Linked DNA regions of Homo sapiens: region 2 is reported to be linked to region 1. The links are microRNA targets in miRTarBase. Many come from high-throughput screens and were not tested one by one. Region 1 holds a microRNA gene; the other region holds the end of a gene's coding sequence.
What was found. The annotated mature microRNA hsa-miR-615-3p reads UCCGAGCCUGGGUCUCCCUCUU and lies in region 1 at 3,736-3,757, shown strand. An mRNA with a match to its seed (bases 2 to 7 or 8) in the 3' UTR can be bound and repressed. Matches are read on the target gene's strand: a 7mer-m8 pairs with bases 2 to 8, a 7mer-A1 pairs with bases 2 to 7 and ends in A, and an 8mer does both.

Region 1 (5,073 bases):
GTGAGGACTTGGCTCCCCCACTCCTTCGACGCCCCCACCCCCGCCCCCCGTGCAGAGAGCCGGCTCCTGGGCCTGCTGGGGCCTCTGCTCCAGGGCCTCAGGGCCCGGCCTGGCAGCCGGGGAGGGCCGGAGGCCCAAGGAGGGCGCGCCTTGGCCCCACACCAACCCCCAGGGCCTCCCCGCAGTCCCTGCCTAGCCCCTCTGCCCCAGCAAATGCCCAGCCCAGGCAAATTGTATTTAAAGAATCCTGGGGGTCATTATGGCATTTTACAAACTGTGACCGTTTCTGTGTGAAGATTTTTAGCTGTATTTGTGGTCTCTGTATTTATATTTATGTTTAGCACCGTCAGTGTTCCTATCCAATTTCAAAAAAGGAAAAAAAAGAGGGAAAATTACAAAAAGAGAGAAAAAAAGTGAATGACGTTTGTTTAGCCAGTAGGAGAAAATAAATAAATAAATAAATCCCTTCGTGTTACCCTCCTGTATAAATCCAACCTCTGGGTCCGTTCTCGAATATTTAATAAAACTGATATTATTTTTAAAACTTTATACCGGGAATTCTGTTAATTCGCTCGCCCGCCGGCCTCAGGGTGAGAGCTGGAGCAGGCTCCAAGCGCTCCCGCGCCTGCCGGCCCCCTGCAAGCCCCCAGCCCTCTGCACTCGCCTTCCCCGGAGCCCAGGCGCCCGGCCCCGGCCTTCTGTTCGTTCTCGCGATCGCACTGAGGGGCTGGGAGGCCTCTCTGGGCTCCCTGCGCGGAGCAACACACACACCCTGCGGGAAAAAGCCGCGTAGGATTTTGTTGCGGGGGGAGCTGGGATCAGTCGGTTTGGGCACCAACCCCACGCAGGCCTTTCTTCCTGCCTGTGGCAGCCGGTGTCCTCGGCGTCCGAACCCTGAGGCGCCCCGAAAGACCAGTAAAGAAGCACTATCCAGGCACCAGGGTCTCCTCCACCCACTCCCGGGAGTTGGAGGCGGGGGGCGCCGTGAGAGCAAGCCCCAGGCCCGCGCCAAGCTGGCTGTTGCGAAACGTAGCGGAGGCGGAGAGCGGAGGGAAAGAGAAGACCGCGGGACTGGAGCCCTGTCGGCAGGGATTGAGCGATTCAAGGACATCTCGAGAGAGAAAGCCTGGAAACTGAGCTCTCGCCTGCTCTGGTACTCCTGACGTGGCCGGGACAAAATTCCTTCTTCATTACAGCTCCAGCCGGGCTGGTTCCTTACTTTTCTCTCCTCAAACGGGTGAAGAGGCGGGTGAGGAGCGCAGCCGGACCCTAACCATTTATCAACCCTGGCCTTCTCTCTCCAAGCCTGGCCAGAGAAACCTGAGTGGGCCTACAGGGAGAGGTGTTGAGGAGGGTCTCCGGAGGGAAAAAATCCGCCAGAGTTTTCCGGGCCCTTCAGATTCCCTCCAGCGCCCCCACCCTCGCCTCCAGTGCCTCCACCAGTGAGGAGGGGGCCTTCTCCTGGCGGGGCGGAGATTTCCTGGGAAGAAGCAGGCAGGGAAGTATGAGACTTGGGGCTACGGGGGAAGAGGATGGGGCCGAATGGCTGCAGATACCCTGCGAAGGCTACCCAGGCGCCTGCCCTGCCCACCCCCCAGGTCCGCCCCATTCCTCTTGGTAGCTCAGAAATTGCTCTCTTGTGAACCTTATGGATTCAGGTCCCTGGAAAGCCTAGCCCAGAGACCTTTTCCCCAAAGGGCACATAACGGGCCTTTTCCTCTGCCATGCTCACGTAATATTTGTGGAGGCTTCAATCTTGCTTCTCCATGTCCTCAATTAACATCTATTTTCTGTCTAAAACCTCTGGCATAGGTACCACATAAGGATCGCACACAGGGAAACAGAGCAGTCCTCTAGACCATTGTCTGGCTCTGTCCGTGTCCACACACACACTTGAAAATTGCCTTGTTGCCACTCTGGGGACCCTAGCATGGTGAGGTCTAGCCAACTCCACCTGGCTCCTCACCTCCAGATCCATCCCAAACAGCCTGCAACACCCTCAGCTTCATGACCCCCCTATCTTGTTCTGACCACTCAGGATCCCTCCTCCTGGGCGTCCTGTCTACCTCTTCAGAAGCTAATTCTACTTTCTCTTGCTGATAGGCACCTCTTCAGCAGTAGTGGAGCCTTAGGGCCTGAGAGGCAAGGGACTTCTACCTTTGGTTTAGGGAACCTAAGTTAAACCCCATTGGTTCTCCAGCCTGGGCATAGGCCACCTTACCTAACTTAATCCCCTTTCCTCAGCCATTTTTGAAGATTGGAAGACCCTGGAGGTTGGGAGAACGGGACTTTCATTACAAAAAGCACTCTGTGCGTTATAAGTGGGGCCTCGTCTTTTCCCAATTTTAAATAGAATTTAAAAGGCTAGCTCAGGGGTTGCCCCAACAACCAGCTTCTCCTTCACAGTGTAGGAAATCCAGCCACCGGAAAGCAAGCTGGCGCTCCAGGATGCAATTCCCCCACATAGGCACCAGGTGTCGCTGTGGGCTTGTTGTCCCGGCTACCCCCAATTCCAAGAACCTTTTTTTTTTTTTCCCTCCCCCTTCCCTCTTTCTCTCTCTCACTCCCTCTCCCCCTTGGTTGGGCTTTGCCAACATATCGAGATGCTTTTCGCCGGCTTCCATCACTAACCTCCCGGAGGTCATCAAGCCAAATTTATGAGTGGCCGCTCGAGTCACGTGACTCTATTTAAGGCTCCCTTATTTGGGAAGAGCGCATAGGATAAAGAAAGAGATATCTCCACCTATAAATTGTCCACTTTGGAGAACAAAAAACCCCTCAACTTCAAAGAGTCACAAATCACCCTTAATCAAAAAGGGTGCAGAAATTTTTTTGGGCCCTCCCCGCCATGAGCTCCTACGTAGCCAATTCATTCTATAAGCAGAGCCCCAATATCCCTGCCTATAACATGCAAACTTGTGGGAACTATGGATCGGCCTCAGAGGTGCAGGCATCCAGGTACTGCTACGGCGGATTGGACTTAAGCATCACTTTCCCACCGCCTGCGCCTTCCAACTCTCTCCACGGGGTAGACATGGCTGCCAACCCCCGGGCTCACCCCGACCGCCCCGCCTGCAGCGCCGCGGCCGCTCCGGGACACGCTCCGGGCAGAGACGAAGCGGCTCCTCTGAACCCCGGGATGTACAGTCAGAAGGCGGCTCGCCCGGCGCTGGAGGAGCGAGCTAAGAGCAGTGGGGAGATCAAAGAGGAGCAGGCGCAGACAGGGCAGCCCGCCGGACTGAGCCAGCCACCGGCCCCGCCACAGATTTACCCGTGGATGACCAAACTGCACATGAGCCACGGTAAACTTTAGGACTTCATTTTGCGCTCTCGGGTCCGCCTGGGTTTTATAGGCCATGCGGGGCAAATAAAGAAAAAAAACCTGCGGCCATAAATTTTACGATCCAGGCATCAATGGCTCGTAAAACTGTCCACTAAAAGGCTTAGAGGCTGTGTGCGCCCAAATTTACGACGACATAATTGGATCATAGGAACAAAACGTGTATAAAAGGCAATATTCAATTTTTGGGGGAGAGGGAGGGAGTTAAAAAAATAGAGGGATCTGAAGGGTGAGGAGCGCGGGGCTCCAGAGCGGGGATCCCCCCGCGGCTCCCTCCCTCCCTCCCCTGCGGAGCCGGCTCCGCCGGCGCTTGCGGCTCCGGAGGATTCCAGCGACTCGGGAGGGGCGGGAGGGGGGTCCCCGGTGCTCGGATCTCGAGGGTGCTTATTGTTCGGTCCGAGCCTGGGTCTCCCTCTTCCCCCCAACCCCCCCTCAGCCCCTCCGGCTGCAGAGTGAAGGCTGCGGTGGAAAGTTTCCTGCCTGGGCGGAGGCGCCTCTCCCGGGGCTGGGCTGGGCTGGCCCGCCTGCGGCCCGCGTGGCCTGTCTTGCGGCTCTCGCCTCCTCTCCCTCCGGCCGCGGGTGGGGGCCTGGGCTGGGGTGGGGACGGGGGAACGCTGCAAGCTATTCACCCCTTCCTGGCTTGGGGTGGGGTTTATGTTCCAGAGACGGACGGCAAGCGGTCCCGAACCAGTTACACGCGCTACCAGACTCTGGAACTCGAGAAAGAATTCCACTTTAACCGCTACCTCACTCGCCGCAGGCGCATAGAGATCGCCAACAACTTGTGTCTCAATGAGAGACAGATCAAGATCTGGTTCCAGAACCGCAGGATGAAGTGGAAGAAAGATTCCAAAATGAAAAGCAAAGAGGCTCTTTAGAGGCAGCGGGGGAGGCCCGCAGAGCGCGCCCCTAGCCGGTTCCTGTCCCTGCGCCTTTCCTTTTCGCCTTTCCTCTCTATATTTCGGGTCGGGGGCAGGTGCTGGAGCACTGGGCTCCCGGGCCCCACAGACAAAAGCGCTTTTCCTTGGCATTCCGCATCCCTACCGACCCAGGGTTCCCGCGGGGCTGTCGGCGCTGCCCCATCTCCCCTCAGCTCGGCTCAGCTCGGTACCCGGGGCCCAGGGCAAGCTCCGCAGGACTTCCCCGGAGGGCTGCGGCGTACAGGCTGGCGCAGAACGAACCTTGGCCTGGGCCGTATCTCCGGCTCCCAGCCTCAGCGCGGCCCTCCCGAGTTAAGGTGGGCCCGGCCCGCGCCACAGGACCCTCGCCGGACCCTCTAACCTCGCCCTCTCCTTTGTTCCCGGCTGGACGGGTTAGACAGCCAAAGGCTGGCGAGAGTCTGGCCCTAGACTCGGGGTGCTTCCTTGTAGCGACTAAACTAGATTTTCACTTATGAATGATTTGCATATGAAAGGAGAGCATCGGCCTAGGGCCCCCACAGTTGCTCTATGCTTTCCAAACCTTATCTCCACAACCTCTTCCCCCCAAAACCCGGGAACCTCCCCAGCCTGCGCCTGCTGCATGCCCTCTCAGGCCGGCAGCCCCAGCCTGCTAGCTAGCTCAACTAGTGGGGTTTCCTGGCACTGGACCCCAGCAAGTGGTCCTAGAGGCCCTTTGCTGTCCCATAGTCCCTGCCACGAATTTCTGTGCCCTCCTGACCCATTGCTGTTGTCCAACTATTTATTGACTCTGGGTCCTTCCTGAAACTATATTTTGTCATATCAAATAAAGAG
Region 2 (5,073 bases), not on the chromosome of region 1:
CCCCTCTGTGCTCACCCTGGTGGGCTGGGGGCAAGGGGCCACCTGGGCCCTGGGCCTCACTGTGTCCCGTGCCCCCAGGCTCCGACTACGACTGCTACTCCGTGAATGGGGATGCGGACAGCGAGGGCCCGCCCGAGTTTGACAAGTCATCCACCATCCCGCGCAACAGCAACATCGCCCAGAACTACCGCCGCCTGATCCAGACCAAGCGCCCAGCCTCCACTGCTGGGCTGCCCACCGCGGGGCTGCCCACGGCCACTGGCCTGCCCTCGGGCGCACCCCCCGGCGTGGCCACCATCCGCCGCACACCCTCCACCAAGCCCACCGTGCGCCGCGCCCTGTCCAGCGCTGGCCCCATCCCCATCCGGCCGCCCATCGTCCCTGTGAAGACGCCCACGGTGCCTGACTCCCCCGGCTACATGGGGCCCACACGGGCGGGCAGTGAGGAGTGCGTCTTCTATACCGACGAGACCGCCTCACCCCTGGCACCGGACCTCGCCAAGGCCTCCCCAAAGAGGCTCAGCCTGCCCAACACAGCCTGGGGCAGCCCATCCCCAGAGGCAGCCGGGTACCCCGGGGCAGGGGCCGAGGACGAGCAGCAGCAGCTGGCGGCCAACCGGCACAGCCTGGTGGAGAAGCTGGGGGAGCTGGTGGCGGGTGCCCACGCACTGGGTGAGGGCCAGTTCCCCTTCCCCACTGCTCTGTCGGCCACCCCCACGGAGGAGACGCCCACCCCACCCCCAGCCGCCACCAGCGACCCCCCGGCCGAAGACATGCTGGTGGCCATCCGGCGTGGGGTCCGGCTCCGCAGGACCGTCACCAACGACAGGTCGGCGCCCCGCATCTTATGATGGCGCCACCCTCCCCATCCTCTCAGGCCCCAGTGCGAGCAGGTGGCCTGGTCTGTGAGCCGCAGGCACTCAGAGCAAAGGCCCAGCCAGGAGAGAGGACAGAGCCAGGGCAGAGGCCATGCCACTTTATGGAAAGACACCTCACTTGGATTCCAGCATTTAAACAGGAAGTGACTTCTTAGCAAGCCTGGCCAGGACGGAGCCTGCAGGCCTGGGCCTGGTTCGGGGTCTGTTTTATGCTCTTCGGTCCCTCCTCTTCCTCCTCTGGGGCCCTGCCTCTTCCCTACCCATAAGCACCAGAGCCAGGGCCGCTGCCCATGACAGAGGGGCCAGGCTGGCCTCCCTTTCACCATCCCGGCCTCTCCCAGGGCTGGTCCTGCCTCAGCTCCTCCTGGAATGCTGGCCCCCCTCTCCCCTGCCTGAGCCCCCTCCTCCCCTCTTGCCTTCTCTCTGCCTCTCCCAGGCCCCTCTCCCTCCAGGAGGCGGGGCGGCTGTGGAGGGGCCAGGTGCACGCTGGGCTGGATGTCTGCTGGGGGCTGGGGGCCAGGGCGGCAGGTTGGAGTTGGGCGGCCAGGCCCCCCGTGTGGGAAGGGAGTTCCAGGGCCCACGCCAAGTCTCAGGGAGGAAACCAGGGGCTGCTTGGGGGGGGGGGTCTTGGGGGCCCTGTGGTGGCTCCCACCCCTCGCCTCCCCCACCCCGTGAGGCTGGCTGGAGGGGGCCAGAGCAGCTCTTTGGAAACTAGGGCAGCAGGGTTAGGAGGCCGGAGGCCCTGGGGTCACCGGCCAGCCACACAGGCACCGTTTTCAGATGTCCACTTCTCATTGGGTACATCAATCTTTTAACTTTGGGGGTCACAGTTTTAGCCACCTTTCGGGGGGTGACTGGAGCAGTAGGAGGTGTGGGGTCATTTTATGAATATAATAAAATGGAGCTGACTGTGGACGAGGACTAAGTGTGGGGGAGAGGGGACGATACAGGGTGTGTGTCTGGGAGTGCCTGGGGGACAGGGACCCCCCGGTGGTCCTATGGCAGGATGAGAAGGGAGGGACTTGGCTCCCCCAGAGCCCGGTGGAAGCTACTGTTCTCTCCAGTGTCTCGAGCGTAGCCAAAATAAGGTTGGGAGGCTCCCGGCCTGTCTGCTGTGGTCTGAGCTGGCTGCAAGCCCAGGTGGGGGAGCGAGTCTGGGAAGATTGGCTTTGACTCTCTGTTGCCGGAGGAGATGCCATCCCAGCACGGCCCCCACTGTAGTCCAGGCTCGTGGTGGCAGCGGGGGCAAGGGGAGGGGCAAGGCTGCCCCCACCCCACGCACCAAGTCACGCCAAGTCTCAGCAGGTAAAAGCACGTGAGCCTAGGGCGAGCGGAGGGAGTCCTGGTGGCCCCGCAGGTCAGGAGGGAAAGCAGGGCTCAGAGGGCATCGTGGCCCCAGGGCAGGGTCCTACCTGGGGGTCAGGAGCACCTTGGTCTTGATGATTGATTGATTGATTGATAGAATGGAGCTGGGTCTGAGCCTCCCAGGCTTGAGCTCCTGGGAGTTCTTGTGCGGTGAGCTGGGCAGCTCCTGGGTAGGTCCGGGCACCAAGCAGGCCCTGATGTGGACAGAGTCCCATCAGAGGGAGCTGATGAAGAATGGTCCCTGTAAGTAAGTCACTAGGTTCAACAACTGCCTGGCCGAGCACTCAGCCCGTGGAGCTCAGGCCAACACCAGAGCCCCGGTTTTAGGGGCCAGGAGAGCAGGTGACCAATTATTTGGGGAGTCTTGGGTAGAATTTCCGCCACACATTCTCCCCAGGGCTGCAGGGGTCTTCCGAGGCAGGGCGGTGGAGCAGGATTCAGGATGTGGTGGGAATAGAGTGAGGGGCAGTGGGTGGGCAGACCTGGGCGTCAGAGGTCCTGATGGGAAAGGAGGCAGGGGCTACCCAGAGAGGGGGGCTCGTGTGGCACAGCCCCCACCGACTCCGCCGTCCCCCTCCCCTGTGAGCCCCGGGGGCTGTACATACTCTACTCCATCCCCTTGTCCATCCCTGAGACCACCCCCGCCGCCCTTGCGTCGACTTAGCAACCACCTCATAGGCCCACCCACCTCGGGATCCGAGCCAACCATCCCACATCACAAACTTTGGTTTGGGGGACTTTACGTTCGTTTAATTTCTCATTTTGTACGGAGAAATATTCTTTTCAAAAGCGTCTTTTGACTGAAGTAACTTTCCTGGTGCTGTTGTTAACTCGTTCCTTTTTTTAATTTATTCCCCCACCCCAGGCAGCCCTCCTGGTTCCTACTCACCCTCCCCCCCTCCCCCACCCTCCGTCCCATCTGAACCATTTGTTTCTTTTCTTTCCGTCAGATTTTGGAAAAATTCTCCTCTCCTCCCCGCCCCCTCCACACCATCCTCCCCGATTTAAATATAGTCACTGCTACAAGTAACAGATGCACTGTGAAGATTCCAGTATTAATAAAGGTGTACTGTAATTAACACCCCTGCCTCTGCCTGGCTGCTTCCTACCCCATCCCCACACCTCACCTTTCCCACCCCAGATCCCAGCTGCAGGGGGACAGGCTGGGGGTTCCCAGAGGATCTCAGATCTCAATGTAGGTGCCAGGGCCAGACCTGGGTCTCTGAAATGTCCCATATGTGTCCCTGCTAGGGGCTGCCTGGGGGCAGCCAGATGGAGGGAGGGAGGGAGAGAGGGAGGGAGGGAGAGAGGGAGGGAGGGAGGGAGGATGGCAAGGGTCAAAGCCAAGGTATCAGCCCAACACCGCCTCCCCCAACCCAGGCTTGCAGAGGCCCCTGGGCTGGGCTGGGCTGGGCTGGGCTGGGCTGGGCTGGGCTGGGCTGGGCCGGAACTCCATCCCTGGCATCCCTCTCATTCCACATCCCTTGGGCAGGCTCCATCCACTCCAAATCCGCATCCTCAGCCCTGCCCCCCTCCACTTCCTGCACTTGGCCACCTCCCATCCCCGCCAGGTTCACCCCTGAAGATGCAAAGCAAAGCAAACCAAAGGAAGTGGGGTGTTTAATAGAAAAAAGAAACTGGAAGAGCATCCACTATGGCAAGATGTGGCACTTGGCACCGCCCTCTGCCCCCAGCTCCCCAGTCTGCCAGGCTGGGGGGTCATAGAATGGCCACGCCGTGCTGGCTGTCTCCCCTGCAACCCACAGCTGTGCCCTCACTGCTGCGGGCCACAGGAGGCTCAGTACCCCCTTTAGGCGGGGGGACAGTGAGGGCAGCACCAGGAGAAGCCAGGAGCTGTGTCCCCATCCACCTTCAGGTCCCCAGGTCCCCTCCGCTCCAGGTGAGGCCATGACAGCTATGGAAGGCAGGAAGCTGAGCCCTGCTGTGGCACAGAATCCCCCTCAAAGGAAAAACACCCTTCCCAGGGGTCCTCTCCCAAGGGGGGCTCCCACCACCACCCCTTGAAGTCTCAGACCCAGTTGAACTCCTGTGGGAGCTGGTCTGGCTGCCCCTATCCGCAGTCACCATCCAGGGTGCTCAGGGCAAGAGGCCCTCGCCCTGTGCCCTGACCGGCCTCACCGAGCCCGTGGAGTGAGGCGGGGAGCTGGGGGACCACGGGGGCGGAGGGTACAGCTGGGTGGCCGCATACTGCAATGAGGGCTCTGGGCTGCAAGACTGAGGACTTGGCACCTCACAGTCCTGCCAGTTTAGGACGGAGCTTTGTTTACCTGCAAGAGATAGGGGAAAAAAAAAAAGACTGCAGCAGTGTTCAAGACCACCCTCCCCACTAAGCCAAGCCGCATGTGCTTGTCCCCCACTCTACCCAGGGCCCATCCTGGCTTCCAGAAATGGCTTGTAGCCCCGGGGAGCAGAGGATATGCCCGGGAGGACGCCAGCTCTGCCAGCTGGCCTGGGTGGGCCCAGATGCCTGGCCTCCCACCCCCAGGCGCCATCCCCTGAGAGCTCCTTACAGCAGGAGCAGTACAGCAGCTCCATGACCCGGAAGCAGTTGTCCAGCAGGGCTTTGGGCCGCACCAGCTTCAGGTTTGGCCCTGGGGCATTCAAGAGGGACAACACGGATTCCACCTTGGGGCTGACCTCCACATCCTGGAAAGGAGGAAACAGTCAGGAGCGGTGGCGAGATGGGGCCGCACCCCAGGAGAGCCGTGAGGGCTGTCCAGTCACCTGGAGCTGCCCAAACCCCGGAAGAAGGACCAGACTTCCTGTGACCATGAGCCTGGATAGCTATTTCTCACCATCTTCTTCCTGT

Region 2: miRTarBase lists MTSS2 as a target of hsa-miR-615-3p. The part of its 3' UTR that is shown has no 7-base or 8-base seed match.

The regions. Positions count from the first base shown.
Region 1 is chr12:54,030,275-54,035,347 of GRCh38, forward strand. MIR615 (microRNA 615) reads left to right here and starts at 3,676; the gene lies at 3,676-3,771. HOXC6 (homeobox C6) reads left to right here. Exons shown (of 2, transcript NM_004503.4): 2 at 1-549. HOXC5 (homeobox C5) reads left to right here and starts at 2,776. Exons shown (of 2, transcript NM_018953.4): 1 at 2,776-3,302; 2 at 4,004-5,073. The coding sequence starts at 2,849. The coding sequence ends at 4,218. It also overlaps a transcript of HOXC4 not described here. RefSeq lists enhancers at 2,291-2,585, 2,580-3,731 and a silencer at 3,815-3,874.
Region 2 is chr16:70,659,455-70,664,527 of GRCh38, reverse strand. It overlaps MTSS2 (MTSS I-BAR domain containing 2), which reads left to right. Exons shown (of 15, transcript NM_138383.3): 15 at 79-3,324. The coding sequence ends at 851. It overlaps IL34 (interleukin 34), which reads right to left. Exons shown (of 6, transcript NM_001393494.1): 5 at 4,775-4,910; 6 at 3,846-4,531. The coding sequence ends at 4,341. Among named protein-coding and RNA genes, the nearest start is that of IL34, 15 kb to the right of the region's middle.